Regions from separate parts of the Homo sapiens genome. Here regions 1, 3, 4, 5 and 6 are each reported to be linked to region 2. Evidence: microRNA targets listed by miRTarBase, many of them from high-throughput screens and not tested one by one. Region 2 holds a microRNA gene; each other region holds the end of a gene's coding sequence.

What was found. The annotated mature microRNA hsa-miR-6780a-5p reads UUGGGAGGGAAGACAGCUGGAGA and lies in region 2 at 2,163-2,185, opposite strand. An mRNA with a match to its seed (bases 2 to 7 or 8) in the 3' UTR can be bound and repressed. Matches are read on the target gene's strand: a 7mer-m8 pairs with bases 2 to 8, a 7mer-A1 pairs with bases 2 to 7 and ends in A, and an 8mer does both.
Region 1: miRTarBase lists DPH2 as a target of hsa-miR-6780a-5p. Seed matches in the 3' UTR shown: 7mer-m8 at 963-969.
Region 3: miRTarBase lists SUPT7L as a target of hsa-miR-6780a-5p. Seed matches in the 3' UTR shown: 7mer-m8 at 2,379-2,385 and 7mer-A1 at 2,548-2,554.
Region 4: the mRNA of GPBP1 is a reported target of hsa-miR-6780a-5p. The part of its 3' UTR that is shown has no 7-base or 8-base seed match.
Region 5: the mRNA of CHORDC1 is a reported target of hsa-miR-6780a-5p. The part of its 3' UTR that is shown has no 7-base or 8-base seed match.
Region 6: miRTarBase lists PGAM5 as a target of hsa-miR-6780a-5p. Seed matches in the 3' UTR shown: 7mer-A1 at 1,748-1,754, 8mer at 1,779-1,786 and 8mer at 2,292-2,299.

The regions. Positions count from the first base shown.
Region 1 is chr1:43,971,649-43,976,648 of GRCh38, forward strand. DPH2 (diphthamide biosynthesis 2) reads left to right here. Exons shown (of 6, transcript NM_001384.5): 4 at 1-422; 5 at 510-686; 6 at 767-1,721. The coding sequence ends at 891. ATP6V0B (ATPase H+ transporting V0 subunit b) reads left to right here and starts at 3,312. Exons shown (of 8, transcript NM_004047.5): 1 at 3,312-3,459; 2 at 4,152-4,200; 3 at 4,442-4,525; 4 at 4,654-4,731; 5 at 4,942-5,000. The coding sequence starts at 3,393. It overlaps LOC124904167 (a long non-coding RNA gene), which reads right to left and starts at 3,217. Exons shown (of 2, transcript XR_007066053.1): 1 at 2,795-3,217; 2 at 1,717-2,239. RefSeq lists enhancers at 1-249, 35-1,234, 2,465-3,298, 2,881-3,000, 3,051-3,100 and 1 more and silencers at 3,351-3,400, 3,801-3,850.
Region 2 is chr17:42,705,962-42,711,033 of GRCh38, forward strand. MIR6780A (microRNA 6780a) reads right to left here and starts at 2,190; the gene lies at 2,123-2,190. EZH1 (enhancer of zeste 1 polycomb repressive complex 2 subunit) reads right to left here. Exons shown (of 21, transcript NM_001991.5): 13 at 3,885-3,976; 14 at 2,915-2,955; 15 at 1,997-2,122; 16 at 46-224.
Region 3 is chr2:27,649,369-27,654,456 of GRCh38, reverse strand. It overlaps SUPT7L (SPT7 like, STAGA complex subunit gamma), which reads left to right. Exons shown (of 6, transcript NM_014860.3): 6 at 710-3,648. The coding sequence ends at 972. GPN1 (GPN-loop GTPase 1) reads right to left here. Exons shown (of 14, transcript NM_007266.4): 14 at 2,946-4,342. The coding sequence ends at 4,257. Among named protein-coding and RNA genes, the nearest start is that of SUPT7L, 12 kb to the left of the region's middle. RefSeq lists an enhancer at 651-1,850.
Region 4 is chr5:57,262,141-57,267,228 of GRCh38, forward strand. It overlaps GPBP1 (GC-rich promoter binding protein 1), which reads left to right. Exons shown (of 12, transcript NM_022913.4): 12 at 454-2,533. The coding sequence ends at 612. Among named protein-coding and RNA genes, the nearest start is that of GPBP1, 91 kb to the left of the region's middle.
Region 5 is chr11:90,198,123-90,203,200 of GRCh38, reverse strand. It overlaps CHORDC1 (cysteine and histidine rich domain containing 1), which reads left to right. Exons shown (of 11, transcript NM_012124.3): 10 at 326-388; 11 at 650-2,772. The coding sequence ends at 796. Among named protein-coding and RNA genes, the nearest start is that of CHORDC1, 22 kb to the left of the region's middle.
Region 6 is chr12:132,720,079-132,725,166 of GRCh38, forward strand. PGAM5 (PGAM family member 5, mitochondrial serine/threonine protein phosphatase) reads left to right here. Exons shown (of 6, transcript NM_001170543.2): 6 at 600-2,656. The coding sequence ends at 750. It also overlaps the pseudogene RNA5SP379. Among named protein-coding and RNA genes, the nearest start is that of PGAM5, 12 kb to the left of the region's middle.

The DNA of each region.
Region 1 (5,000 bases), not on the chromosome of region 2:
CTGCTGTCCAGATACAGGGAAGACTCAGGATGAGGGTGCCCGGGCTGGACGGCTAAGGGCACGAAGACGATATCTGGTAGAGAGGGCCAGAGATGCCCGCGTGGTAGGGCTGCTGGCAGGCACACTGGGTGTAGCCCAACACCGTGAGGCACTGGCCCACTTGCGGAACCTGACTCAGGCTGCTGGCAAGCGTAGCTATGTGTTGGCCCTGGGGCGGCCCACCCCTGCCAAGCTTGCCAACTTCCCTGAGGTGGATGTCTTTGTGCTATTAGCCTGTCCTCTGGGTGCTCTAGCCCCCCAGCTTTCTGGTAGCTTCTTCCAGCCTATACTGGCACCATGTGAGCTGGAAGCTGCCTGCAACCCTGCCTGGCCACCTCCAGGCCTGGCTCCCCACCTCACACATTATGCGGACTTATTGCCTGGTGAGTAGTGGGGGCATTGCCTAAGCTGGAAACCTGGGGCACGGAGTCAGGGGGTGAGTATGGATTTTCTTTCCTCCTCCCTTTCAGGCTCTCCCTTCCACGTGGCTCTCCCACCACCTGAGTCAGAGCTGTGGGAAACCCCAGACGTGTCACTCATTACTGGAGATCTCCGACCCCCACCTGCCTGGAAGTCATCAAATGATCATGGAAGCTTGGCTCTGACCCCACGGCCCCAGCTGGAGCTGGCTGAGAGCAGTCCTGCAGGTAAATGTACAAGTCTCCACTCCCAGCTGAGCTTTTTCTCCAGATGCAGCGCACTCAGACTGAGCCCCCTCCCTCTACAGCCTCATTCCTTAGTTCCCGGAGCTGGCAAGGGCTGGAGCCCCGCCTGGGTCAGACGCCAGTGACAGAAGCTGTGAGTGGAAGACGAGGGATTGCCATCGCCTATGAGGATGAGGGAAGCGGCTGATACCATGTGGGGCTGGAGACATAGATGGACTTATGAATGGCTGCTAGGACCTTTAGTGCTCCCTGCACCAACCTCCCATCCCCCTGCCAAGATCCTTGAAGGACCCTGGAAGGAGGGAGAGCAGGCAGCCCTTCACAGGATAGGATCCGTCTCTGTCCTGTCCTGGCACTGGCACAAGCTCAGCACATGCCCAGTAATGCGTGTTGTTTGGCTGATGGAATAAAGGGCTTAGGGACTTCCCTGAGGCCTCTGGACCCATCTGTCTTCCTGAGGGCAGCCCAGGACCTTTGGCCAATCCCAGTTCCCAGGCTGCAGTTGAGGGTCTGTCCTTGTCAAAAGGCAGGTGCTAGACAGTCTAGACCAGGGTTTCTCAAACTCGTACTTGACATTTGGGGCCAGATAATTCTTTGTTGTGGGGCTGTCTGGTGTATGGTAGGGTGCTCAGCAGCATCCCTGGCCTCTGCCCACTAGACATCAGAAGCACTCCCCCAGTTGTGACAACCAAAAATATCTCCAGACCTTGGCAAATGTTATCTGTGGGGGAAAATTGCCCTCAATTGAGAACCACTGGTCTAGCTAGACCTGCACTGTCCAGTACAGTAGCCACTAAATACATGTGGCTAAACTTAAATTTAAGTTAATTAAGATTAAAAGCTCAGTTTCTCAGTCACATTAGTCATTCAAGTGTTCAGACAGCCACATGAGGGGACAGTGCAGCTACAGGATATGCCATCATGGCAGAAAGTTCTATTGGTTGGACAGCGTTGGTCTATACTGACTCTTATTTCTCAGGGAGATCACAGCAACCTAAATAAACCAGATACCTTTTCTCTTTGTGTTTCTTTTTAATTCATGAAATACTGCAGGTCCTGCACTGGTCCTGGGATGTAGATGTTAACTGTATTTAACCAGATTCCTTTCCAGTGTACCTGGAAAGAGAGTTAAATACGCAGTCAGTACACAGTGAAACAGCTCTATCTGGGAGGAGGGAAGCCCCAGGGACAGCTGGATCCCACAGGAGATACCTGACAAGGACTAAGAGGAGGCTTCCCAGAGGGCATAACACCTATGCTGGATCTTTTGGAGGAAAAAATAATTGTCAGGAGAAAAGGAGTGAAAAAGACCTTTGGGCTTAAACATGAACCAACATGGCGGATGCTTCAAGCAAGTGGGGTTGCTGGGCCCTAAAGGTGGAGAGGGGTGAAATGAAAAGACTCGCCTCTTCTTCCCCACATTTGTTGAGAATCTGGTCACAGTGGCATTGTCGAGGGTATTGAAGGTGAACAAAGGAGATGTGGTCCCTGCCCTCAGGGAATGCCTAGTCTAATGGTGGAGGCAGAGCTGTAAGCTAACAAGGTAACCCAGACAAAGTGGGCATCAGTCATGTGTTCTACAAATATGTACTGAGGACACACTCTGTGCCAGGTACTGGAAATACAGCAGTGAGCGACACAAAAGCCATGGTGCTTCCACTCTTCCAGGGGAGTTGGACAAATAAAATACTTAGTATGCCAAATGGTGATCAGTAAGTACCGTGAGAAATGTAAAGCTGGGAAGCAGAGGAGCGTTTAAGTGGGGTGGAATATTAAACAGAATGGTCAGAGAAGGCCTTTTCAAGAAGGTGAGCAAAAACTGAAAGGAAGTTACAGGATGAGCCGCATGTATAGTTAGGAGAAGCAGAGAGAGCAAGTGCAAGGGCAGTGAGGTCGCGGTATGGTTGGCACGTTCAAAGAAATAGCAAGGAGGGCAGTGCAGCCAGAGGAGGGAGTTAGTGGGGGAATATTAGAAGGTGAAGTCAGCTGAGGGGCGTGGGGAGCCTAGCAGGCTATTGTGAGAACTTTGGCTTTTCTCCTGAATGAAATGGGAGCCATCAGGGCATTTCGACAGGGTAGTGACATCTTACTGAAGCTTAATAAGCATCACCAGGACATCGCGGGAGCCCAGCAAACGCGCTTCCCTGCCACTGGGTTAGGGAAGGCTTGCCGGAAGGACGATTTCGGAGGACAGCAGGTGTTAGCCAGGCAGCGGAGCGAGCGCCAACAGGCGCACTGGGGCGGAGAGACGCCGTGAGCAAGGTGAGGCAGAGGGCACGCGCGGCGCCACCCGCCACAGGCTAGGACGCACGGCTGCCAGAGAGGACGCCTTAGGGGCCCGCGAGCAGGCTCGGGAATAAAACAGGGCTGGCAGGGCGAGGTGGAGAGACTCGAGAAGGACCGGCCAGATGTCGAAGTTCCTAGAGAGGAGGGCGCCCAAGCCTCCGCCGAGACGCGTGACTACAACTACCACAATCCCCAGCGCCTGCGGTTCCAGCGTCGCCTTGCTCTAGACGGGCGGCGGCGCTGCGCGGGGAACCGGCGTGGGGTCACGTGGTACCGGCGCATCACGTGGGCGAGTTAGGTGACGCTGCGGGGCGGGCGGACAGACTGCGGGACGGACGGTGGACGCTGGGACGCGTTTGTAGCTCCGGCCCCGCCGTTCCGACCCCCGCCGCCGTCGCCGCCATGACGGGGCTAGCACTGCTCTACTCCGGGGTCTTCGTGGCCTTCTGGGCCTGCGCGCTGGCCGTGGGTGAGGCCGGGTCCTGGCGGGCGGGAGCAGCATCGCGGCCGAGCTGGCCGGGTCGGAACTCGGCGGGGAAGTGGCCTGCGGGGAATACTGGCCCCCCGCGCGCTCTGCACCCGAGGCTCTGGGGACTTGCGCCTGCGAGGGCCTCTGACTCCGACAAAGGAGACCCGGATTTCCAGCTGCTTGAGGAGGGGTGCGGGCGGGTAGGGGCCGCGAGGGCAGCACTCCCCCGTCCTGCCACTATCGCTGTCTCCCCTCGCTCCCACGTCTCACTGCTGTCCCCCCTTTCTTGCTCCTGACCGGCCCGCTCGGTCACAAGCCGGCTGCTCCGGTTCCTCTTTTCCCAGTCGCTTTGCCCTCCCCCACCCACAGCTTGTTGGGTAAACAGCGGAACGGACTGGGCCGGCGGGATCTGGCTGGAGCGCTTGCTCCCTCGGTCCCGCCTCGGATTCGGGCTTGCGGGTGGCGACCCTGCCTGCGCAGGTGCTTGGTCTGGGAGGTGGTTTTAGCGAGGGAATGGCAGAAAATGGAGGCCTAAGCAGAGGAATCTGTCTACACAGCTGTACTGTCACCTGGGGGCAGCCTGAGGACGCCCCTTCAGGGAGGTGGCCCTTCAGCTCGGCAGCTACTTTAGGTTGAAGAACTTCTCTCTACCGAGCAGCCCGTAACCCCCTTTTTCTCCCTCACTGCTGCAGGAGTCTGCTACACCATTTTTGATTTGGGCTTCCGCTTTGATGTGGCATGGTAAGGGAGGGCAGGGGGAGGATTCCCCTTGAAGCTTCTTCCCTGCAGCCTCTCTTCTTTTCTCTGGTCTGAGTCCCTCCCCCACACCACTGCCTGCCTGGGACATGGACCTTTGGGAAATACGCGGTCAGTTGTTGCCTGTAGAACTGGTGGTGGGGTTGAAGGGGGTTTGAGGGGTTAAGATTTTGTGCTCCGCTTCCCTGCTAGAGCTGAACTGCTTTCTTCTCTGCTTCCACAACAGGTTCCTGACGGAGACTTCGCCCTTCATGTGGTCCAACCTGGGCATTGGCCTAGCTATCTCCCTGTCTGTGGTTGGGGCAGCCTGGTGAGTATTGGGGTGGTGGGACTGGGGGCAGGGGCTGAGTCATGGCAGGTGGTGTCACTGGGGTCTTAGGCATGCTGAGGGCAGTGACAGCTTGGGCTCTGCTCATCAGTTTTTTATCCTTCCACCAGGGGCATCTATATTACCGGCTCCTCCATCATTGGTGGAGGAGTGAAGGCCCCCAGGATCAAGACCAAGAACCTGGTCAGGTAAGTGTCAGGGTCCTTGGACTTTTGTCAGAACCAGCTGTGTTGGCGCTGCCTGTGTGTTTGATCTGACATACTGTTTCTGACAAGCCACCTTGTGGGATGGGATGTTATAGGGGAAAGATTGCTGGGGACTTACTGGGCAGGAAGGACGGTTTCTTTCTCATTTCTTTCTCCTTTCCACTCCTTACCCCTAATCTCTACCACTACCAGCATCATCTTCTGTGAGGCTGTGGCCATCTACGGCATCATCATGGCAATTGTCATTAGCA
Region 2 (5,072 bases):
CCCCCTCCATTTTATGTGGTGTGGGGTCCTGAGGAAAGGCCTCACCTTCTTAAGTCCACGCTGGATGCTGCAGTTTTTACAGGAAACCACCTTGCAGTCCCAGTGCTCTGAGGCCCCACAGGTGAGACACAGGTCAGGGTCACATTCTCGCACTGCCAGATAGCAAGGACATTGCTTGGTATTGCACTGGGTCTTACAGCGACAGCCAGGGAAACGATTCTGACCTGGGAAGGGAAGACAGGTAAGTCTTAGAAGGGAAATAAGCTAATACTGGGGCTTGTGGTTGACTCAAGGGACAGCAAAGAAGTAAATTTTTTGTGTTCAAGGATGTTTGGCAAAATAAGAGGAAGCTCCCTTCCCAATAATCAAATACACAAGTTTTGTCCATAGAAAACTGAGTGCTTCCCAACATTCATGCCTTCGAGTCAAAAAAGCAGGTGTGGTCAAGCATGGTGGCTCATGCCTGTAATCCTAGCACTTTGGGAGGCCAAGGCAGGAGAATCACCTGAGCCCAGGAGTTCAAAACCAGGCTGGGCAACATAGGGAGATCCTGTCTCCACAAAAAAATTAAAAAAAAAAATAGCCATGTGTGGTGACACCTGCCTGTAGTCCCAGGCTTGATGGATGTAGGGGGATGAATGGCTTGAGCCAGGGAGGTTGAGGCTGCAGTGAGCCATAATTGTGCCACTTCTCTCCAGCCTGAGCAACAGAGCTGAGATCCTGTCTCAAAAAAATTTAAAAAATGAAAAAAAAAGCAGGTATACTAATAAGAAGTGTCCCCTAGAGATTCCCCAACAATCCTCTCCCTCCCACTGAGGTGGAGAGTACCCCAGAGAATATGAAATCAGTGTGTTTCACTGGTAAATTGTCACCATCAAAACAAGTATCATTTTGAGAACAGAATGCATCCGTTCTATGCCATCCTTCTCCACCCACTGCCCAACCCAGCGCAACCACTTCTCTGCTGCGGCTAAGATCACTATCTGCTATGGGTTAGGAGGTATTTCCTCCAGCAAAACCGCCTGGGCACCAAGTTCTGCAAGCTGTGGGGACTGCCATCAAACTGCTCAGCTTTGAGTTGGGAAGGGCATGGTGGGATAAGAAGTAAAAGATAAGTACCCGGATGTCTCTGCTGACATCCAGGCCCCTGTCTTCTACCTGATATTAAAACTCCAGCTATGAAATGAAAATAGACATACACAGAATCACAAACAAAAAATATCTGAATAAAAAATTTTTTAAAACAGTATTCAGAAAAGGGAAACTGGGGCTGTAACTTAAAAAAAAAAAAAAGAGTCCCACATTTCTTTTCTTTTTGAGACAGAGTCTTGCTCTGTTGCCCAGGCTGGAGTGCAGTGGCACAATCTTGGCTCACTGGCAGCCTCTGCCCTCTGGGTTCAAGCAGTTCTTGTGCCTCAGCCTCCCAAGTAGCTGGGACTACAAGCATGTACCACCATGTCTGGCTAATTTTTGTATTCTTAGTAGAGACGGGGTTCACCATGTTGGCCAGGCTGGTCTTGAGTCCTGACCTTAAGTGATCTGCCCGACTTGGCCTTCCAAGTGCTGGGATTATAGGCGTGAGCCACCACACCTGGCCTAATTTTTTTATTTTTAGTAGAGATGAGGTTTCGCCAAGTTGGCCACGCTGGTCTTGAACTCCTGACCTCAAGTGATCCGCCTACCCAAAGTGCTGGGATTACAGGCGTGAGTGACTGCGCCTGCTGCCCCCCACATTTCTTAATTCTCCCCTAGAAGACAAAGTTGGGAAAGTATCTGATTTCTGTGTAATTGCTGCTTTTAGAATCATGAACCTAAACGTTTTCCAGAAACGACTCTCCCAGATCTCATGCACTTATTTCATTTGTAGAATCCCTAAAACACAGCAAAGGGGATATCAGAAGGCCATAAGCAGTAAAGGGCACAGGAATGGGGCAAGCCTAGGGCACACTGGAGCCAACTGTTTTGGTAGACTATACAGAAAACGTAGCACACTTACAGTCTGGGTTGCACTGGCAGAACTTCTCACAGAAATTCTGAGTCATGATGCAGGGGCAGGTGCTGTCACAGGGGCGGTCTGGGTGGTCGCAGGGTTGGTAGTTGTACACTTGTGTGGAAGAGTTATCTAGGAAAGAAAACAGAGGAGGATGCTGCTGTGACCATACTCTCCAGCTGTCTTCCCTCCCAAGTGTCCAGCTGCCCTGATTCAGAGGAGGCTGGTCCTAACAATCTCCTTGGACACACATTTAGCACCTGAAGTGAGAAGACAGGGATGACCGTTGTTCATAAGCTGCAGTGGGGTGATCTGCTTTGTGGGGAGGGTGTGGAGATGGTCTGGGACAACAGGGAAGCTATTCTAAACATTAAATGAGGTCTGGAACCTAGCAAATGGCACACTAGAAAAGTCACATACTGGCCAGGCACAGTGGCTCACGCCTGTAATCCCAGCACTTTGCGAGGCCGAGGCAGGTGGATCATTTGAGGTCAGGAGTTCGAGACCAGCCTGGCCAACATGGTGAAACCCCGTCTCTACTAAAAATACAAAAATTAGCCAGGCATGGTGGTACATGCCTGTAATCCCAGCTACTTGGGAAGCTGAGGCAGGAGAATTGCTTGAACCCGGGAGGCGGAGGTTGCAGTGAGCCAAGATTGTGCCACTGCACTCCAGCCTGGGTGACAGAGCGAGGCTCCATCTCAAAAAAAAGAAAAATCACAGACCACAAGGCCCTTAATGTTACCTCCTAAGAGGTCTTCTCAGTTGCAGTGAGAGGCTCAGCTGTTCTCAGTTGCTGCAGAGAATTCTGCAATCTGCGGAAGTGGCACAGGGTCAACAAGTGCAGCTGGAGGTGGGGTAGGGTGATGACCACAGAGTGAGGCCTCCAGCTGAACTGCTGAAGAATGCCCTGGTAGAACTTACCTTTCTTCAGCTGAATCTTCCTGCAGTGTGCAGCCCACAATCTGAAAAAGACAGGAAGGACAGGTCTCAGTCACGGCCCTAGGGAGCTCTGCAAATGCAGGTAAATGACAACGTGACTTGCTCTGAGGGACTGTGTTTGATGACTGGGGAGTATCTTCCCAAACCCCTCAACAGGACGACTTTGGTACACAGAAGCTAGAGTCCATCCTAAATCCAGCTGGCCTGTGCTACAAGAGTTAAACTTAAACACAACCCCTCCCAAACAAGCAAATAACATAAAAGAACACAACACAGAAATAAAAGAAAGCCCAAGCCTATTGGTCTATTATAAAGCTATTGTTTCTCTCCAAATCTCTCCCTTTGTCTTTGTGGAGGTGGAGATATGGGGGAGTTTCAAGATGGGGAGGTGGGAAGGCCTTTCAGGAATCTTCTCTGAAAGAACTGAAAGGGAGGAGCCACAGGGATTTCCTTCTGTATCTAGAAGTGGTGTCAGCTCCTTCCTCTGATAGGTGATAGTCACTAGGGAACAGGGCCAGGGTGCAGAATTTTTTTAAAAACTTCCAACCTAAGTAAAGGCTATCATGTAACTCAGAAAAACAACACAAACCAAACAAATAAATAAACTCTGATCAGAGTTGAGAAATGGGTAAGGTGGTAACAAAACCAACAAGGAGAAATGGCTTCAGGGTGGAGCCATGAGGCCAGCTCATGTCCTATTGGCCAGAAGCTTAAATAGAAAAACAGACAGTTATGGTCCACAGCACTGGGGGACAAGAAGAGGGCTGATCTAAGGCACAGACCCTCAGGGAGCACTCAGGAGGCTGGCTCTCAGTCATGTGATGCCAAGCTGATGGGCTCACACAGCCTGTGCGGTTGCTAAAGAGGGAGGCAGATGGGAACTCCAAGGGGAGGTCAGAGCACAGGGAACAGCCTGGCTGTAAAACAAAACACTTTGTCCAACCCTTCTTGCCTGTGCTTTCTTTTCTTCTTCTGTGAGGGGTTCATGAGCTCATCTGTTGGCAGCTTCAGGATAAGTGATTCTTTGACTGCAAACTGAAAGACCTGGAAGAGAAATCCAACGGGCCTGTCACTCCTCGAGCAAGGGGGTCAGGTAAGTGGCCCAGCTGGGTGCTGGCCTTGGGAGGGTTCTGAGAAACTCAGGCAGCTGACCAAGCCTCTCATCAGTCAGGGAGAGACAGAGTGCCACTGGAACATTGGGTTACTGGCTCTGAAGTTCATTCCTAATTATTTATCCTGACTCAGGAAAGGAGAAATACTGAGCACAGTAATACCGCCCCTGGTCAGAAGCTGTCACCTACTACTCTTTCTACCAAGCCACGGGTAGAAGAGTGGGCTGACTGTGACCAACAGTATCTTCTTCTTTTTAGGAAGGGCAACGCTGTGCCTTGTGTAACTGAGTGTAAGGCAGGACAGGACAGGACAGGAATGGTTTCAGTGGGCTAAATATTAGCTCCCTCTGTCAGTATAAAGATACCGGAGCCTCAGCCATTTCAATAGGATGTGTTTTTTCTCTTAAAGCACTGGTTTTTAGTTTTTCCTTTTCTTTGTTGGGGCTATTGGCCCTTTGTGGGGGATCTTTGAAAACTGTAACTATTCTCAGGAAAATACAGACAAGAACATTCTTGCATACAAATCCATAGATGGTTACGTTGAGAACCTGTGATCAGGGAAATAGGTATGAGCTCCAAAATGAAAGCAAAGGGCACTTCAGCTCATGGTTCTGTTTTTGTTTGTTTTTTTTTTTTTTTTTTAAGAGAGAGGGTCTCATACTCTTGGCCAGGCTGGAGTGCAGTGGTGCCATCATAGCTCAATGTAGTATAGAACTCCTGGGCTCAAGCCATCTTCCCACCTCAGCCTCCTGAGTACTAGGACTACAGGTACGTGGCTTTTTTTTTTTTTTTTTTTTTGTAGAAATGGGGTCTCACTTTGTTGCCCACACTGGTCCTGAAATCCTGGCTTCAAGCGATCCTCCCACCATGGCTTCCCAAAGCACTGGAATTCTAGGTGTGAGCCACCTTGCCCAGTCCATGGTTCTATTAATTGTTCTCAGTACAGGAAGCATGAAGAAGAGGCCACAGAGTCTCCTCCAGAAGGTAGGAAGCCAAAGCATTGGGGTTCCTTTCCTGTTGGACATGCT
Region 3 (5,088 bases), not on the chromosome of region 2:
CAGTTGTTTACAAGTATAAATTGTCATCAATGCACAAATGACTCAAATAGCAAATCCTCAAATGTGGTCTAAATGGAATTAGGTCATACTTTTAAAAGTGTTGGGCAGAGAGCCTTTCACTATGGAAGAATAACCATAAGAGAACAGCATTGCTAGAATACATAGAGAGATGCGAGGGCCAAAGAGAAATTGTTGCGGACTTCGGGACCATGTCTCTTCAAAGAAGACCAGGTAGAGAACTGCTGTTAGCATTATGTAGTGACCATTAACTTTTCATAATGCAAGAGATGACCAGAGACCCAAACAAAAGGCAGGAAAACAAGATGGCCCCATAAAAGAAGGAAGGAAGGACAGGCAAACTAAACAACTGAACAAGTCCTGTGGTTGTGCATGTCTTTGGGCTGTGAGACAGGGGATCTTTCCACCTGCCTAGTTTCACTTCCCTGGTTTAGGGGAAATGGGGGTGGGTGAGGTAGAGGAAAGAAAGGTAGAAGAAATGGAAAAGAAGATAATCAGAGCTGGTAATTTTTTGGGATGGTTAACTTTTTGAAGCAGAGAGTAACAACCATATTCTCCAGCCAAGTACAGAATCAGAGTGAAAACTGAGCTCAAAGCATATTAGTTGGTTCTGAGTGATATATTTACTCTTTGTTCTACACTTGGCTACACATATACACTTGGTGTATGTCCATCTTTCCTCTGTTTCTAGGTGCAGAGGTAAATGCTTCTCCTCTTTGGAATCTGGCCCATGTGAAAATGGAGCCTCAAGAAAGTGAAGAAGGCAATGTCTCTGGGCATGGTGTGCTGGGCAGTGATGTCTTCGAGGAGCCTATGTCAGGCATGAGTGAAGCTGGGATTCCTCAGAGCCCTGATGACTCAGATAGCAGCTATGGTTCCCACTCCACTGACAGCCTCATGGGGTCCTCCCCTGTTTTCAACCAGCGCTGCAAGAAGAGGATGAGGAAAATATAAAAGGAAAAGAGGGAGATGTTTTGTCCAGACCTACTAGACCCAACAGAAAAGGTTTTTGTATTAGAATCTGTTTCCTTAAAAATTGATTTGACTCCTGTTCTTAAACACAAGTGGTTTTTCCTAATTCCAGAGGAACTGGACGTCACCAAACAAGGTTGCATTTTACTTTTGCATCCAGTTTTTATAGTTTTCCACAACCAAGCCACCCTTCACAGATAAAATATGATGCTGGCATGGCAATCAGACCAAAGCACTGTCCCCAATTGTTGTCTTAACTATGACTAGACATGTTATACAGCCATTTATCTTGTACAACTGAGAAGAATCATACTTTGACCTACCTTGTAGAGATGTGAGGATTTAGATGTTTGCTAACTTCAAAACTGTGCTTGAATAGACTAATAATATATGCTCATATCAGATGTCAGTTTTCATTTAACTTGATTCATTTTTGGCTCAGGTCATTGGGAACCCATTACTAATACCTAACAGGAAATAGCTAAACACAACACACCTTATCTATTAGTCACCTTCTTAAAACTGTTTTTGCTACTTTTGAAGTGTCTTATTTATAAGATCAGAGGTCTGACACCTTTTTTGCTTAGACAGCTCTCTATCTCATCCATTTATTTTCTTCTCTAGACTTACTCCATCTCTCCTCATCCTTTTGCCTTTGTTATTTCTGCTCGGACTCACATACTTTCACCATATACATATTTTCAATTGTTTCTTTCCTTTTCTCCTTTGTGAGCAAAGCAAACAAGTACTGTCCAAGGACAGCCTTGTGCATATTTCATTTGTTGCATTTGCTTGGTCATCAGAGGACAGCAGTCCATTAAGCACACTTTGCTGCTTCTACTGTAAAGGCAGCCTTTAAAACATAGCAATATGCACCTTTCAACTTTACATCATGTCCTGAACAACATCACTGTGGTTACTCATCCATCAGACTATCTGTATATATAAGTACTGAATCAGTATTTATTAAGTAAATGATGTAGCACTGTAGTGATTAGGAATCATTAGCAAATGTGTTGCTTCATGCCTTGGTGATGGATGCCAGCATGTTAAACTGCTGAAGTTTGATTTTCTGATGCAAAATATATCTTGTAAAATTTAGACCACTCCTTTAATGCAGACCAAAATAAGGCACAGCTTTAATTCATTATTGAATGCCTTAAATGTCCCAGGTATTGAGAATAAATGAATATGATACAAATGAGGTTATAGTTTAACATATAATTTTAAATTTGCCAATTGTAACTCTTTAGCACATTTCTCTAAACCCTTTCTGTCACAGTCTTTTTTTTAATTTATTTATTTATTTATTTATTTTTGAGATGGAGTCTTGCTCTGTCACCCAGGCTGGAGTGCAATGGTGCAATTTCGACTCACTGCAACCTCTGCCTCCCAGGTTCAAGCGATTCTCCTGCCTCAGCCACCTGAGTAGCTGGGATTACACGCACATGCCACCACACCCAGCTAATTTTTGCATTTTTAGTAGAGATGAGGTTTCACCGTGTTGGCCAGGCTGGTCTCAAAACTCCTGACCTCAAGTGATCTGCCCGCCTCGGGCTCCCAAAGTGCTGGGATTACAGGCGTGAGCCACTGCACCTGGCCTCTGTTGCAGTCTTATCTTCATTTTCCTTTGTTTATAATGAAAGTGGCGATTAGGCAGTTAGTTTCCATAAAGTGGCCGTATGGGAATTTAGTTCATTCATCCAGCAAACATTGAGTACCAATTATTTGCTAGGTCCTGTGCAAGGAATACAAAAATGATTAAGACTTCTTCCTTACCCTTTTGGAGCTTGAAGCATAAGGAAGACAAGTTATTCTGTAAGGAAGATAAAGCATTCAAAAGTACTACAGAGAAAAACCAAGTATGCTTGAGTTTTGCGAATGTTCTCCTCTTAAAGAATAGCTTCAAATTTTGAGACCAGTGGTTCCCACTAAGTATAGAACATTAAAATTAATACTTTATAATAAAACACTTTTATTGCTGCAGAATGTTAAACTGCATAACAGGCACCAGATGGTCAAGACGAGGGAAATATGAGAAGGCAAATGATGTGAGGATTAGTATCTTGAGATTCACCTGGTCTGGAATTATGTCATAGGCTACTATGCATCAGAATCACATGGAGGGCTTTCTAAAACAGACTGCTCAGCCCACCCCCAGGGTTTCTGAGTTCATAGGTTATAAGAGGTAAGTTGAACAATTCCCCAGATGATGCTGATGCTCCTGGTCCACAATGTGAGAACCACTAAGTTGGAGTACTGACTCATAGAGATAAAATTCTTTGAAAGAAATGTACTGTTTTAAGATACTGTAAAATGTGGAGGCAGGGCAAACGTTTATAAGGGCTGTTATGTATGAAATGTGCCTCTGACCCAAATCCACGGACTTTGCGAAAATCACCAAGGAGACTTTGCATTAAGTTCAGAGTACAATACAAACTGGGCCTAGCTCTGTATTTAGTCAGTATGTGCACGTGGGAAACTTTAGTAAAATATCACCTCCTTATTGAGACAAGTTTGGACATCTGGCCTTAAGCCTCTGTTGAACAGGAGAAGTGAAGCTGTTTGCAATTATATAATTTTCTAATTTGAAATCATGACAAGCAGTCTTAGAACAAAGTTAAAATTAAAAAGTCTTTATCCAAGTCACCAATGAAACAGGATTCTGATTCATTAATCATGTCTTGCCCACTTTTTTCAACAAACCTGACGTCCTATAATGAGCTATACAGTGTGAGGCATATTTCATAGCAACGTTGGTTGATTGCCAAGGAGACTCTGCCACCGTTCTGGATAAGCTCATGTTTCCCTTTTCCTTGGCTGCTAATAGAAGGGCAACTTACAGTGCAGGGTCAAGAGCAAGAAGCTGGGGGAGTAGAGGCTATACATCTAGCCTAATAATAGAGATCTGAGGTGGTCACCAGGAGACTACGTTCTTTTGATTCCATTCCTCAGCAGCAAAAGTACTTGAGTTCAAATGATAAAACTTGAAGTTGTAGGCTTGGAAGAGTATCAGCTCAGTATATCCTTCCTTGCATAAATACAAGGGAAAGGCCAAGGAATAATCAGCATTAACCTGCCAGGTCCAAGGGTCTTCTATCCCTGACTTCATCTGAGTCACAAGATTTCTCTAATAAGAGAAACTTTGCTACTCTGAGGAAAATTATCCCTTATGGGAGCCCCCAGTTCAGAGGTAAGAACAGTTCTTTCACGTGGAGGTCCAAAATTCTGGACTTCTAGAAACAAGTGAAGTGTGCTAAAGTCTCCTATTTATTGTTTCTCTTCCAGTATTGTGCCATCGATTCTTGCATAAAATTCTGGAATGCTGGCTCTTCATGGCTTTCCTCTGTAACTGCAAGGAAAAAAGGGCAATTCTTTTTCAACTCTTTCATTAGACAAACTGATTAGAGCCCGTCACCCATCCATCAGAAAACAGTACATTACTTCTAAGAAACTTAAGTACTCACTTCCCTCAAAAAGGAAATGTCTCCTAGAAGCATGCTCTATCATGCTGCCCAAAATGTAGTTTCTTTATAAGTAGAAAGAATACCTCCCTCATAGTAGCTAAAATAAGGTCCCACTTGTAGGTATTTTTAACCAAGAGAAATGAAAACATACGTCTACACAAAGATCTATTTGGAAACGTTTATAGTTGCTTTACTCATAATAGCTAAAATCTACCCAAATATCAGTCCACTGGGGAATGGATAAACAAACTGTGGAACATCCACAATAATGGAATATCACTCAGCAATAAAAAAGAACATACTGATACATGCAACAACATGGAGAGACTACACTACTGAGTCAAAAAAGTCAAATGCAAAAGGCTAAATACTGTGATTCTATTTCTATGGCATTCTGGAAAAGGCAAGATCAAAGGAACAGAAATCAGTCAGTGGTTGCCAGGCACTAGGTGTTCAGGATGGGGACTGAAAAAAAAGGGGCATGAGGAAGTTTTGGGGGGTGAGGGAAGTGCTCTACATTTCAACTGTGATTGTGGTTACAAGAAAGTATATATTTATTAAAGCTCATCAAACTATATACTCAAAAAGTGAGTTTCACTGTTGGTAAACTACATCTTAAAAAATCTGATTA
Region 4 (5,088 bases), not on the chromosome of region 2:
TTAGTTATGATTTCTCATTTTCAGAAATAGAGAACTGTATTTTTTCTAGTATCTTCATCTCCGGTTAAACGAGACAATTTTGTAACTTTATATACCTCATTCTACTTTACAAACTATGAACAAAGCAGATTGGGGGGTGTATTAATTTAGGTCAGAATAATAAAAATAACAGATACAGCTTAATGGTTTCTGATTATATTCTGGTAAGTCCCTGAAGGTATTTATTACAGTTGTCACTTGAGGCAATAAAAATGTGGGAAAGTTTAGTACCTTAATCAGTGTGACAATTATTACTCACATCTACTTTGTCTGGATCCAGAATTTTTTCAGAAATATCATTACTTGTGTAGTTTTTGGGTTAGGATACAATTTTATTATATTCATGCTTATATTATTACAGTAGGTTTGTAACTCTTGAGGGATAATTTATTTATTTTGCTGTTAACATTTTAGTTACAGAAGAATGGTCTGAGAAAAAATGGTATTTTGAAAAATGGCTTGATCTGTGACTTCAAGTTTGGACCGTGGAAGAACAGCACTTTCAAACCCACAACTGAGAATGATGACACAGAGACAAGTAGCAGTGATACATCAGATGACGACGATGTGTGAAGGATTTCCTAACAGCTTTAGAAATCTTAGTGTGATACATCTCTCATACAGTTTGGGGTGAATTGTAAAAATGAAGAACTATAATTTATGTAGTGAAATACCCCATTAGAAGAGGATTTTTTGGGGGACTTCAATATGAAGAAAACCAAGAATGTTTTGTTGGGCTGTGTTGAACATTATTTCTTTGTAAATGAATGTTGTAGGAATGAGGACTTGGGTTGGTCCAACATTGACTTTCTTCATCACTGCAACATTTCTCTGACTAGCAATGTGACGATGTAACAAATGAGATTTTCTCATTTAATAATAAAAAATTGTGTAATGTTTTGCAAAGCTTCTGTCTTAAAATGTCCAGGTCTTAAGAAAAAAGGCAGCTTACACTGTTTTGCTTGCAGAGTCATATCTTTTTCGTACAATGGAAATCCTCAAGTCCACTTTGTGCGGTCTCCCTCTCCTTCCCCCAAAAAACAACAACAACAAAACAAAAACCAAAAAGGAAAATGTAGCATGTTGGCTAAAACTGGAGCAAAGTGCACTAAAACAATTTCCTGAACTCACCTGTTGTACTATTCACCTTTTAAACCATAAATTGCTCTTTAGCCATTTGTAGTGCAGTAAATGTTACAGGAAAAGACTTGGCACATTTTCTTCCAAATTTTAAGAGGTGATTTTCAAAAGCTTTATTGGGGTATGTTGTCAGACCAGGGTTTTCAGAGTTGATGGAAAAGAGTCTTGTGAGAAAACTTATTTTGATAAATTATTACACACGCAGAAAAACTGATCACACTGACTGGATCTGTCCACGACATGGAAAATAAACTGGATTTTCAGAATATTGTTGTTTTCTGTAGTGTTCAAGGTATTGTTTCTAAACATAAACATACTCTAAACATGCTTTATTCACTTGTTAAAGTCATACTTTTAAAAGTAATACCTTACTAAAGATGGTGATTACTTTTCCGAGGTCAGAAAAGGAAAGCTAAGCGTTTTCATTATCAAATACACAAGCTTATTAAATGAATGACTGTTAACTACTTTATTTTCATTTGCACATTAATTTTGGAATTGTTTCTGTTTTGCTGCTGACGGAAATACTATTTTGGCTCTGTGTATATTTGTATTTTGATTTTTCTGGTTTGTTTACCCCCATTTGCTTTTAGCTCCCCCTTATGTTTAAATATATTCTAACTTATGTAAAGAGCATAATCTTAGAGCAAAAATACTTGAGGTTTTATGTCAGATCTAATCTTAAGTGTTTGTTGTTTTTTAAAAAGTGTTTTCTCAGATGGCTGCAGTGTTTTTGCTATTTCTGCATAAATACCCTACCTGGACTCCCCAGTTTTCACCAGAAACTGTTATTTTTTTTTGTTGTTGTTCCCACTGAGACTGATGGTGATGGGGAAATTAAAAACAACACACTAGCACACTCCCACAAAACTTGAGGAAGAGTTAGAATGGTAATAAAATATTAAATAGACCTTATACTTAAAATAAGGTTTCACTATATAATTTGTCACAATTCAATCTAATCAGCTAAAGTTAAATGTAGTTAGAATTAGCCACAGGAGAATGTAAAGCATGCTTTGACGAAGCTATCGGTAACACATATTGAATGTCTTTGAGACTCTTAGATTGTACTATTTGCTTAATAGATTAATGAAATTTATCAGATACAACCTGTATTTCCAAAAACAAGCTAGAAGGAACCTGAGGAATGTGGTTTACATTTGAGATCCACCTTACTGTGTTTTCTACTTTCAGAAAAGATTCTGTAGTTTTGGTTTTTGGCATCTTTCTTATACTCAGTTTTTTCTGCCTTAATTCCCATTTACCAGCAGTTAACTCATGTTTATTGTGCTTTCATGCATTGTGATATGGAATGTGTTTAGTAATTTACTCCTTATAAATATGGTAAAGTACAGTGGTATGGTTATTCTATGCATTAAGTTAATGACATTAATAAGCTTGGTTATGAGGGGTTGGAGCCATACATGTAATTTAAGAGAACAGTTAAAAGTGTAACATAGTTTTAGCTTGGTGTCTAAATAATGGGCAGCTGATAAAACAGCTTGGACCATATTGTTTTAAAGAGAGCCTACAAGCACAGAAACTAGTTATAGATCTAATGTGGAATTGCTGAACTCAGAACTAGGCCATGGAAGTCTGAAAAGCAAATATGGCTGTTTCAAACTCATTTTTTTGGCAGCTTTTTTATTTTTAACACTTTATTGAGGTATAAATTGACTTGAACACACAGGTAAAACATACAGTTTACAGTGTTTTGACCTACAACTAAGTGAACATAATCTATTATTCCCCCGAATTTCTTGGTTCCTTTTAAGTCCCTGTCACTAATTCTCCACCCCCCTCTCATTTTATTTTGGTATAAAATGTAATTAATGAGCAAAATTCTTAAGGTAATGACTTAAAATAGCATTTCAAAAACTATTTGCTTGATTTTAGTATAAGGATTAGAATATTTCTGCAGATAATTTCTATTGAAATTGTTAATCTAAAATCAGCTTGACTTAATCAGATTTATATTAACAGAATTCAGTATGTTAAAGGATCTGGTTCCCCCAAAATACTTTGTCCTTTTTTGCTAGTGTTTATGTATACTGTTAGAATGTGGTTATATAAACCTTTTAAATTTAGGAATCTGTTAAATAACTTGTTTTAACACCCCATCCGTCATCATCCCTAATCTGATACTGGAGTCTAAATACATGCTCCATAATCATGCAAACTAAGTTGAATCTAGATGATGAGGGTAGACTGGGTGCGGTAGCTCATACCTGTAATCCCAGGACTTTGGGAGGCCAAGGTCAGCAGATCACCTGAGGTCAGGAGTTAGAGACCAGCCTGGGCCAACGTGGTGAAACCCTGTCTCTACTTAAAAAAAAAAAAATACAAAAATTAGCCGGGCGTGGGGGCATACACCTGTAATTCCAGCTACTCATAGGATATTGAGGCAGGAGAATCGCTTGAACCCAGGAGTCGGAGGTTGCAGTGAGTTGAGATCGTGCCATTGTGCTCCAGCCTGGGCAACAGAGTGAGACTACGTCTCAAAATAAAAAAAAAATGATAACTAGGGTAGAAAGGATACACACTTGTGAAATATTTCTATAAAGTGAGATTTTTATTTTGGCTTACACAATAAGGGATGTGTTACTAGGGCTTTTAAATGATTATCACTAAGAGTTGGATATTTTAACTTTTAGATAGTTAAGTTTCCTGAGGTTATAAAAGTTATTTGGCTGTTAGGGGAACGACAGGACATATCAAGCAATAGAAAAATCCGTGAAAGCCTCCAGATGCCGCAGAGATGCTTCAGATTCTGGTTTTTGTTTTGCTACTTAATATTTCCTTTCTTTAGGCAGGGCTGAATGCTTGCACTTAAAACGATGGGACTCAGAGGACAGCTGTGATTGTTTTAATATTTAACTATGGGGCTGGGCATGGTGGCTCACGCCTGTAATCCCAGCACTTTGGGAGGCTGAGGCGGGAGGATCACCTGAGGTCAGGAGTTCAAGACCACCCTGGCCAACATGGTGAAACCCCATCTGACCCAGTCTGTACTAAAAATACAAAAATTAGCTGGGTGTGGTGGTGCATGCCTCTGATCCCAGCTACTTGGGAGGCTGAGACAGGAGAATTGCTTGAACCTGGGAGGCGGAGGCCATAAGCCATGATTGTACCACTGCACTCCAGCCTGGGTGACAGCGAGACTCTTGATATATATAACTGTATAACTATATATATATAACTATATAACTACATATATAACTATATAAAAACTATAAAACTATGTAAAACTATATATAAGACTATATATATATAAAACTATATATATATAGTTATGGGACACGTGGACCTGAAACATTCGTAGTTTAGGACTTGAGAATGTGTTGTAATTAAGAGGTTTTGTAATTGTGAATTTTTGTTCAGTTGTACAGTTAACTTTAAGTTCATTCTGCCTACCCATATGGATTCGTTTTGTAGAACTACTCTGGCATAGTGATTGAAGGTACAATGTATTATATCATTAGGTCTGGTTGAAGGACACTGCTGAAGCATGTTCCATGCAGCAGTGTCCTAACTTGCAATATGTAAGAGCATGTGTAGTGGTGGGGCCCAAACTTATCTACACCATTGGTATCATTGGGGAGCTTCCCCAATGTGTCCACCATCCCCCACCAACACCCCAGATTGTGGTTTAATTAGACTGGGGCGTGGCCTGGGCTTTAGAATATTTAAAAATCCTGCCCCCAAAACCCATTCTTTTTTTTTATTTTTTGAGACAGAGCCTTACTCTGTCACCCAGGTTGGAGTGTAAGTGGCGTGATCTTGGCTCAGTGCAACCTCTGTCTCCTGGGTTTGAGTGATTCTCATGTCTCAGCCTCCCAAGTAGCTGGGGTTACAGGTGCGCACCACCATGCCCGGCTAAATTTCATATTTTTAGAGATGGAATTTCGC
Region 5 (5,078 bases), not on the chromosome of region 2:
TTTATAATGACTCCCATTAAAAAAAATTAAATTACTTCTATGAAACTATTTTAAATGAAAATTTCTGTATAGTAGACTTACTGCTGAACCATTCTGGAGATACTGTAGTAGATTTATCAAGTAATATAGTACTTAGTTCTCAATATGAAACTTGAAGCCAGTTATTCTTTTTTGTCAGTGGCTTTTCTCATATGAAACAATACAGTATTGGCAGTTTCTTAAAATAGCTTAATTCATTTTTGTCAGTCTTATTTTTATAATCAGTGTTTGATAGCATAAATCTTCAGTTTGAATTAGATCAATTAACTGTGTATATCTTTTTCAGTTAAATGTGCATATTGTATTTGAAGGAGAGAAGGAATTTGATCAAAATGTGAAATTATGGGGTGTAAGTATTACAAATTTATAAGAATTTTTTTTCTGATAACTTAGATCATTTGTAGAATAAAAGACAATTCTTCAGTAAACATTGATGCAAAGTATAGATGTATAACTTAACAGTGTATCCTACCAAAAAGTTTAAGACTAGATATAAAAGAGGCCTTTAGAAGCTTGGATTTGGGATTATTGGCATAAGCAAGTCTGATGTTTTCCTCTGAGACTAATAAAACTACTGAGGTTTCCTGTAATTCTCTTTGATATGTTACAGGTGATTGATGTAAAGCGAAGTTATGTAACTATGACTGCAACAAAGATTGAAATCACTATGAGAAAAGCTGAACCGATGCAGTGGGCAAGCCTTGAACTGCCTGCAGCTAAAAAGCAGGAAAAACAAAAAGATGCCACAACAGATTGAGTGGGAGATGGAAGGAAGGCTATTACATTATTTCCGAATTTTTAATACTGTGTGAAGTGGTGGCTTGCTGCTGTAATCTTTTGTTTTGTTGTTGTGTTACTGAATGTGGCATTTCAGGGTTAACATTAGGTTCTTAAAAGCCAAAGTCAGTTTGTCTTTTTGTGCCTCTCATCTTTCTTTTGTGTTATGTAAGATTGATTATTCATTTCTCCCTACTGGTAGGAACCATAGTTGTGTCCTATACTTGAAGAGGCTGGAAAGTAGCCCATAACCATAATTGCAGTATTTCTTTGTATTTCTCTGTTAAGCAAAGAAATATTAAGGAACATTTTTTTTATGTTTTTGTATTATTCCATAATTAGTAAAGCAAGATGAAATGTCAAATTTTAATCAGTTTTTTCATGGATTTGTGTTCTTACAGTACTTGAAAATATTTAAGGAAGAGATGAAGCTCTGCAGTTTTTTCTATGTGGGATGATTACTTTTTTAAGGAGGATTAATTCTGAGGTAGTATAGTAACTAAAGGGGAATATATGAATTGTTTAACAAATTAGAATTTGTTTACAACTACTTGAATTTTTAAATTATGTCAAAACTTACATTACTTGCCAAGCAGTATGATGTTATAGGAAACATAAATAAGATTACAGAGGTATCAATTTGGTTAAAATTCACCATTTTATAAGACTAAGCAATAATCTTAACAACCTCTTTCCTGAATATTTAAATGTGTTTGTATGGTGTTATGACTAATTGTTACTGATTTAGAGACTAAGCCCTCTTAAAACCTTTAGTTAAATATAAAAAGAAATTATATATATCTTGCCTCCCTGATGGAAAACTATATAAAATTGTAGACTTAAAAGGTTTGTGGAAATACATTAGGATATCAGAAAACTAAATATATGGAGTTGCTTTATGACTATTACATGTTAAATAAAAATAGCTTAATTGTTTTGGAGTTTTTTTTTAAAGTCATGAAGAGCTTCACAATTCTAGTGATACAATGTTGACTATATATTGTACTTTATATTAAATATAGGTAATACAGAATTAGATCGTTTGGATAGGTTTTGAGTTAGTGCAGAACTCAAGAAGAAAAATTAGGAAATATTCTGAAGGCCAGAACTCTGGAAGAACTTAGAAAGTTTGGGAATAAATTAAACTTATGTAGATTTAAAATTAAAAGGGGTTTATTTCCCAAACCCCTTGAGTCTTTTCTTTTCCTTGGTATTTATGGAATTCTTACAAAGAAAAATTTGCAGAAGTACTATTTTCGTGAATAAAACATATGTATCATTCTACTACCATTAGCAAATAACTTAGTTGTAGTTAATATAATTGTTAAAAGGTTTAGCTCTGTTACAAATAAAAACATAAAGATCTGGCAACCAGACTTTCATGATGTTACATTACCATGACAAGAAACTCTGGGCAGTAAAAGTTGGACCCACATGGAGTACATAAGCATCTGATACCTGGAGATGTATTTAAAATTTTTCAAGTTATCTTCCATGATTTAGGAACCATTTAGAGACATGAAGTCTTTATGGGTTGGGGGAAAGGTTGATAATTAGTTTGATTAAAGGTAATGATTAATATCCCTTTTTGTTCATACTTCCTTCTGAGGCTGTTTTCCCCTAAACAGTATCTTAATCTGTTACATGTAATTGAAATATTATTTGAAGCAGTGAGTTATTGTAACCTCAGATTAGTTACATTGATCAAAACATTGATTTATACACACACACACACACATACATATGTAGCTTTTATATTTAGTCTGGTTACATTAGTGACCATGGTATTTACTTTCTTCTTAAGGAGCCTTTGAATTTCTTGTCCAGATAAAAATCCGAATATTTCTCTTAGACTCATACATAAAGGGACACAGTTATCGTTAGGTAGCATATGTTTTACTATCGGTTTGTCAAAAAAGTTAATAAAAAGTGCTTATTGATTTATTTCTCTAGAAATTTGCTTTGTCTTTTTTAGCATTAAAAATAATTACTATAGCAAAGCAGTCAAAGTTAGGTATATTATATATATACTTGGTAACTAAAGATGGGAAACCTAAAATGCTATTTTTCTTTCATAGCACATTTACTAGTATAAAGGAAGTAAGATCCTAATAAACTGAGCCTTTATTTAACTTCTTTGACCTAGTTTTAGGTTTACAGAAAAGTTGTAAAAATACAACAGTTCTTTATGTCTTATATTAATCTTAATGTTAAAATCTTACGTTATCATAGAACATTTATAAAACTTAAGAAATTAACCTTTGTATAATACTATTAACTAAAGTAGAACATTTTATTTTTACCATCTGTTTTTAGTGGAATTCTTCAAGGTCTTAAGACTTGTCCTACTTTTTTGGTAATAATTTAAGCCAGTAATTTATAAACAATTAAGATATGATTAGGAATCAACAAATGTTTATAGGTTGAAGATGTAACTTCTTGGTGTAACTATACTGGCAAAGGACTGTAATGATTTTACTTTATTCTAATTTATATTTTATGCAAGGATTTAATTAAGAATTTTCTTCAGAAAATTATTCAACCATCAAAGTGTAGAGAAACTTAAAGAGTTCTTGCAAATATTTTAAAGGGACTTTGAGTTATTTCCCCTCTCCGAACTCCCAATTTTTTTTTTTTTTTTAATCAGTTATTCCTCAGCCTGAAAATTTATGTCATGCGTATACTCACAGTAAGTAAACTTTTTTTTTTTTATTTTTTTTATTTATTTATTTTTTTTTTTTTGAGACGGAGTCTCGCTCTGTCGCCCAGGCTGGAGTGCAGTGGCGGGATCTCGGCTCACTGCAAGCTCCGCCTCCCGGGTTCACGCCATTCTCCTGCCTCAGCTTCCCAAGTAGCTGGGACTACAGGCGCCCGCCACTACGCCCGGCTAATTTTTTGTATTTTTTTTTTTTAGTAGAGACGGGGTTTCACCGTTTTAGCCGGGATGGTCTCGATCTCCTGACCTCGTGATCCGCCCGCCTCGGCCTCCCAAAGTGCTGGGATTACAGGCGTGAGCCACCGCGCCCGGCCAAGTAAACTCTTAAAAGCTCATTTATGAGGGCTGGTGTCCCTTTTAGGATATATGGGTATGTACTCTGTAAATTTTGTTTTTAGCAGTCAGGTACTTTTAAATTATCTATTTGAACATTAACAGGGTTTTTTTTTGTTGTTCATCTTTTATGGCAAATTATTTTGACTTGGCATTCATATTTGTTATTTACTTTGTTTTCACCAGTATAATTCCATGGCCTCAGTTTTGAAATGCAAGCTATTAAGCCCAGCTTGTTTTTAGGTTTTGTTAATAGGGTTTTCTGTTTCATTTGTTTTGATTGTTTGATAGGTTTTTTGTTGTTGTTGTTAATTATCCCTGACTGCTTCCCTACTGCCCAGGTATCTTAACAACTTAATCTGGTGGTGTTGGATGGCTTGCCTTCTTCAGTTACGTATATGCCTATGGCTTTATACATATGGCACTATCTCTAAAATACCAGGCTTGCAGAGGTTTTCTTCTGCATGTTCTTTAACTTTTTAACAGAATTCTTCATTGTGAAGATTATCTTTAAGAACAGTTTTTCTGAAGACCATGTTTTCACTAAAAACTCAATGACTTTTCTTAGTTTTTCCGTTTAGTGGGTCACCTTTAATGTCCATTGAAAAGAAATATAACTTCCAGCCTTAAACATTTTTATGTTTCTTAAAGATTATGTGTCAAAATAATTCAATTTGCCATTCCTTTTTCATTAGGCAGAGATGCTGCTTAAATGTTTAAATTATTTTTTAAAAACTTTGCTAATAAAAGTAAAATCAGTGATTGAGTCTGGAAAAGGGAAACCTCCCTGAACTTGAGGCACTTTCCCCTCGTTCAGTAAAGAGGTTAGATGGATGTATTAATATTTTTAAACACCCTGATCCTTTTCTTCATTTTGCTTATTTCATTTTGCAGTTTCATATTTATTCAGATTTTATTTTTATGATTAACTTGTTAATCTTCTTTACCATGCTGTGAGGTGGGTTTTTTTATTCTTATATTACAGATGAGGAAACTGACTTTATGACATTGGTTAAGTAGCTTATCCAGAGTTCAGACTAATGAGTTGTGGTATAAAGATTTCAAACTCATGCAGCCTGCCTCTGTGTTGTTCCATGCTCTTAACCACTATTCTGTGCTGCTTCTGATATAACATGGGCATATAGCATGGAAAACTCTTAATGTGTTTGGTAACCAGGAACAATTTTTTTGTTGTGTTAGTAAAGTTATAAAA
Region 6 (5,088 bases), not on the chromosome of region 2:
AGTGTGATGGCTCCATTCATGTCGATCCCAGTCATCGATTCACGTCGATCCCAGCCAGATCTTCCCCGAGAAGCCCCGACTGAAGACAGGAGCGGCTCGGCTGATGTGTACCCCGGCCCTGAGGCTGCTCTGAGACTTCTGAGGGGCTCAGCCTCTGTTTGTAGAACAGAGCCCCCTGGCACAGCCTGGCCCAGCCTCTTTTAAGGACAGAGTCCCCTGGCTCTAGCCCAGCCCGTTTTTTTTTTTTTAGACAGAATCTCGCTCTGTCACCCAGGCTGGAGTGCAGTGGCGCGATCTCAGCTCACTGCAAGCTCCGCCTCCCGGGTTCACGCCATTCTTCTGCCTCAGCCTCCCAAGTAGCTGGGACTACAGGTGCCTGCTATCACGCCCAGCTAATTTTTTGTATTTTTAGTAGAGATGGGGTTTCACCGTGTTAGCTGGGATGGTCTCGATCTCCTGACCTTGTGATCCACCCGCCTGGCCTCCCAAAGTGCTGGGATTACAGGTGTGAGCCACCATGCCCGGCCTAGCTCAGCCCGTTTTAAGGACAGAGCCCCCTGGCTCTAACGTGCTCTTTCTCTCTCTCTCTCTCTCCCCAGAGCACTGCAGTTTCCTCCTGAAGGCTGGCTCCGGCTCTCCCTCAATAATGGCAGCATCACCCACCTGGTGATCCGACCCAACGGCCGAGTTGCGCTCAGGACCCTCGGGGACACGGGGTTCATGCCTCCCGACAAGATCACTCGATCCTGAGGGCTCCGGCCTCTCCTTCCCTCTGTCCTCCCTGCACAGGCCGCACACACTTAACGTTTTGTTCCCAAGGAGACCGGCGGAAAGTAGAAACCTGCAATGCTGCATCTGGGAACTGACTTGTGACCAGGCTGAGAAGGGGAGAGTTGGGATCAGACAGCCTGACTTCTCTGCAGGGTTTTATACCTGACCATGAACCCCCAGGATGGCGTGGGGTTTAAGGTGAAAGCGTCTCACGCACAAGTCAGGCCTGTTGTGGGGACTTGAAAGAGGCCTGACCCAGACCACCATGTTCGCACCCACAGCTGACCCGTGCTGAGGGTCCAGGCTCCATTGGCAAAGCCGGTCAGGCACGAGGGCGACTGAGGCACGTGGATGAGGAGGGCACCCAGGTTCTGTTCACAACTCACTTCACTTCATACATCCTTTTAATTTCTTAAAACCCTCTTGTCCCTTAAATATTTGTCAATTAAAGATTTTCTGGCTGGGCACAGTGGCTCACACCTGTATTCCCAGCTACTCAGGAGGCCAGGGTGGGAGGATCACTTGAGCTCAGGAGTTCAAGACCAGCCTGGACAAGGCAACATAGCGAGACCCTGTCTCTACTAAAAATACAGAACTTAGCTGGGTGTGTCGTGGGCATCTAGAGTCCCAGCTACTTGGGAGGCTGAGGTGGGTGGATCACTTGGGCCCGGGAGCTGGAGGCTGCAGTGAGCTGTGATTGTGTCACTGCACTCCAGCCTGGGCAAGCGAGGGAGACTTAAAGCAATTTTTTCTTTTGAAACGGAGTTTCACTCTTGTTGCCCAGGCTGGAGTGCAGTGGTGCGATCTCGGCTCACCGCAACCTCTGCCTCCTGGGTTCAAGTGATTCTCCTGCCTCAGCTCCCGAGTAGCTGGGATTACAGTCGCCCACCACCATACCTGGCTAATTTTTTGTATTTTTAGTAAAGACAGGGTTTCATGGAGAAACCAATATAGAATTGTTCAGGCTGGTCTCGAACTCCCAACCTCAGGTGATTCACCCACCTTGGCCTCCCAAAGTGCTGGGATTAAAGGTGTGAGCCATCGTGCCTGGCCTAAAAAATTTTTTTTTCTTCATCTGGGTTTTTGCTTTGAAAACAAGTTTCTCCAAATTTACAGATTTCCTGATGATGTTGGGTCTGAACTCACCAACTTGATTAGGTCTTTAGGGGCCGAGGGACTAGCCAGCTGCACAGGTGACTGGATGGGGGAGGGGCAGGTGAGGTGGGTCTACAGAGGTGGCTTCGCCTTTGACCTTCATGCTGGTCTCGGCTGAGGTGACACGCTAGTGACAGCCCAATAGGGGGTTACCCTTATTGAGTAAAATACTTCAGATTGACAGCTCAATCTTAGTTTGCCTCCAGTTAATCTTTTATGCTTAGGGATTAAATGTGTGGTTTTTTTTTTGTTTTTTTTTTTTTGGAGACGGAGTCTCGCTCTGTCACCCAGGCTGGAGTGCAGTGGCGCGATCTCGGCTCACTGCAACCTCTGCCTCCTGGGTTCAAACGATTCTCCTGCCTCAGCCTCCCAAGTAGCTGGGATTATAGGCGCCCACCACCATGCCTGGCTAATTTTTTATTTTTAGTAGAGATGGGGTTTCACCGTGTTGGCCAGGCTGGTCTCGAACTCCTGACCTCGTGATCTACCCACCTCGGCCTCCCCAAGTGCTGGGATTACAGGCGTGAGCTAGCATGCCTGGCCAGGGATTAAAATATTCAAACATGTTGTGTGTACCCAGATATGCTGTTAATTTAGGAAAAACAGTACAATTTCTATGAAGTGGTTGTGACTATTTTCTGTAGTCAATACAGTTGGGATATCTGATCTATTTCTCTGTCTACTTTGGAAATGATTGCATAATAAATAAAATTTTACTGTTTTTTTAAAAGGACTAGTTGTGAGTGTGTTAAAAGCGTGGAACTTCGGCCGGGCGCGGTGGCCACGCCTGTAATCCCAGCACTTCAGGAGGCCCAGGCAGGTGGATCATGAGGTCGGGAGTTCAAGACCAGCCTGACCAACATGCTGAAACCTCGTCTCTACTAAAAATACAAAAATTAGCCAGGTGTGGCAGGCGCCTGTAATCCCAGCTACTCAGGAGGCTGAGGCAGGAGAATCGCTTGAACCCGGAAGGCGGAGCTTGCAGTGAGCCGAGATCGCTCCACTGCACTCCAGCCTGGGCCACAGAGCAAGACACCATCTAATAAGAAAAAAAAAAAAGGAAACTTGTGCAGTGTGAGAAACGATGGTGTCACCAGAACCCTTTGCACAGTGTCCTGTCTCCCCGTGGCTGACGCCTCTGCCCGCATCGCACCGGCTGCCTGCTCAGAGGACTTCCGCCAGTGGCCTGGGCCCTTTCCAAATCCCTGACCAGGACGGCAAGGCTGACCAATGGTTGTGGAGACAACAGCCACAGCAACCATACACCACTGTCTAGAAATAGTTTGATAAGCCAGGGACGCGCCAACTTCAAAAACAAATACCAGGCACGCTCACGTTTGACCTCAGACGGGAGCAAGGCTGGCGAGGAAGCAGTCCGGGATGCTCTAAGTCAGCTACACAGGGCGCCCACGCCACAGCCCCAACGCTGGGCCTCCAGGGATGGGGCAGCGCTGCAGGGCTAAGCCTTTGTTCTGCTTAGGGCCCCGGCTCCTCTGTAAAGTGGGAAAGCTTGGAGGTGGGAGCAGCGCCAGCACGCCTGGCACTGAGGCAATGCTCAGAGCAGGCGCAGGTTTGCTGGGCAGCAAAGCTCATCACAAAGTGGAATGACCACACATCAGCTGGCCCCAATGCCCTGCGCAGCCCACGGCCACTCCCATCGCTCACGTCATAGACGTGAGTCGCACTCATGTGAAGATCTGGACAGACTACCTGGTCTAAAGGGGGAAGTGGATGGGAGACCACGAGCAGTTTTCAATGGATCACAAGAAACCAGTGACCCAGAGTCTTCAAATCCTTCTGCAAAAAAACAAACAAAACCCAAAAGGAAAGAAAACCTGATTATGCTGCTTAAGTCAAATCTGAAGTCAAGGATTTTGAAAAGTTAAGCCACAAACTCAGTGTGTGACTAATTCTTTAAGAGCGTACAGCAATGATAACCAAGTCTACAGCCCTTGGTATTCCCAGGCAGCCTCCACTCCAAGTCCTAACCAGGCCCTGCTTATCTGCCAAGATCAGAGAGACTGGGTGTGCTCGGGGTAGTATGCCCATAGATGATTACCTAAGTTTCTTGAATATGAAACTTTAAATAATTTTTAGTTTCTTTTTCTAGAGTAAATTCCCAGCAAACTTTTTTTTTGAGACATACTCTGGCTCTGTCACCTGGGTTGGAGTGCGGTGCCACAGTCTCGGCTCACTACAACCTCCGCTTTCCAGGCTCAAGCGATTCTCATGTCTCAGCCTCCCAAGTGGCTCGTTCTACAGGTGTGCGTCACTGCACCTGGCTCATTTTTGCATTTGTGGTAGAGATGGGTTTCACTATGCTGGCTAGACTGGTCTCGAGCTCCTGGCCTCAAGTGATCCGCCCACCTCGGCATCCCAAAGCACATGAGCCACTGTGCCTGGTAGACTTCCCTTCTAAAATACCTGCTGTTCAAAGTGGTTCTTCCTTAAATGGCCTTTTCCAGTCTTCTGCATGTGGGACGGACGTAGATTAGCAAAGTGAGGATGGCTCCCGGTTTGGCTGGTAGCTGGTGGGGGTCTAATTTCTGAATGCTGGACTCAGGGCAGGTATGGCGGGGGAGAAGGCAGGGAGGGGCAGGCAGGAGACTGGGGAGTGGGGAGCTGACCCATACCAGGGCAGCCCCCAGGGATCTTCAGTGTGCATGTTGTGAACGCCTGCGTGGAGGGAGCCGCATGAGGGGAAGGCTGAGGGTGTCTGGACTGGGTGAGTTACAGGGGCCCAGCGACGTCAACGATGGAAACCGTCCCCTGGTTTGGGACAGACTGAAGACTTCTCACATGTTAGTAACGATAGCCTCTGTCTGGCCAAAGTGAAAACTGCACACCAGAAGCCTCAATGAGACTGGTGGGAAAGGCAATGCCACCAGATGGCGGCCAGCTGCCAGGGGTCGCCATGCCGACGTTTATCCCAAAGCCTTTTCTAAGGAGGGAGCACGGGCGGGAATCTGCAGCTGGAGCAGTCACAGGGTTTCCAACCACGACAAACACGCCTGCACCCCGCACGCACAGCCGGGCCCCAATGAGGGTTTCCATCAGCCCTTCCCTGGGAAAACTCTGCAGGCTTCTGGAAACATCCACACGGCTCTGGAGGACCTGGCTGTGGTCCCTGCCATGGCGCCGCTGGCACTCCCACGGCTGGTA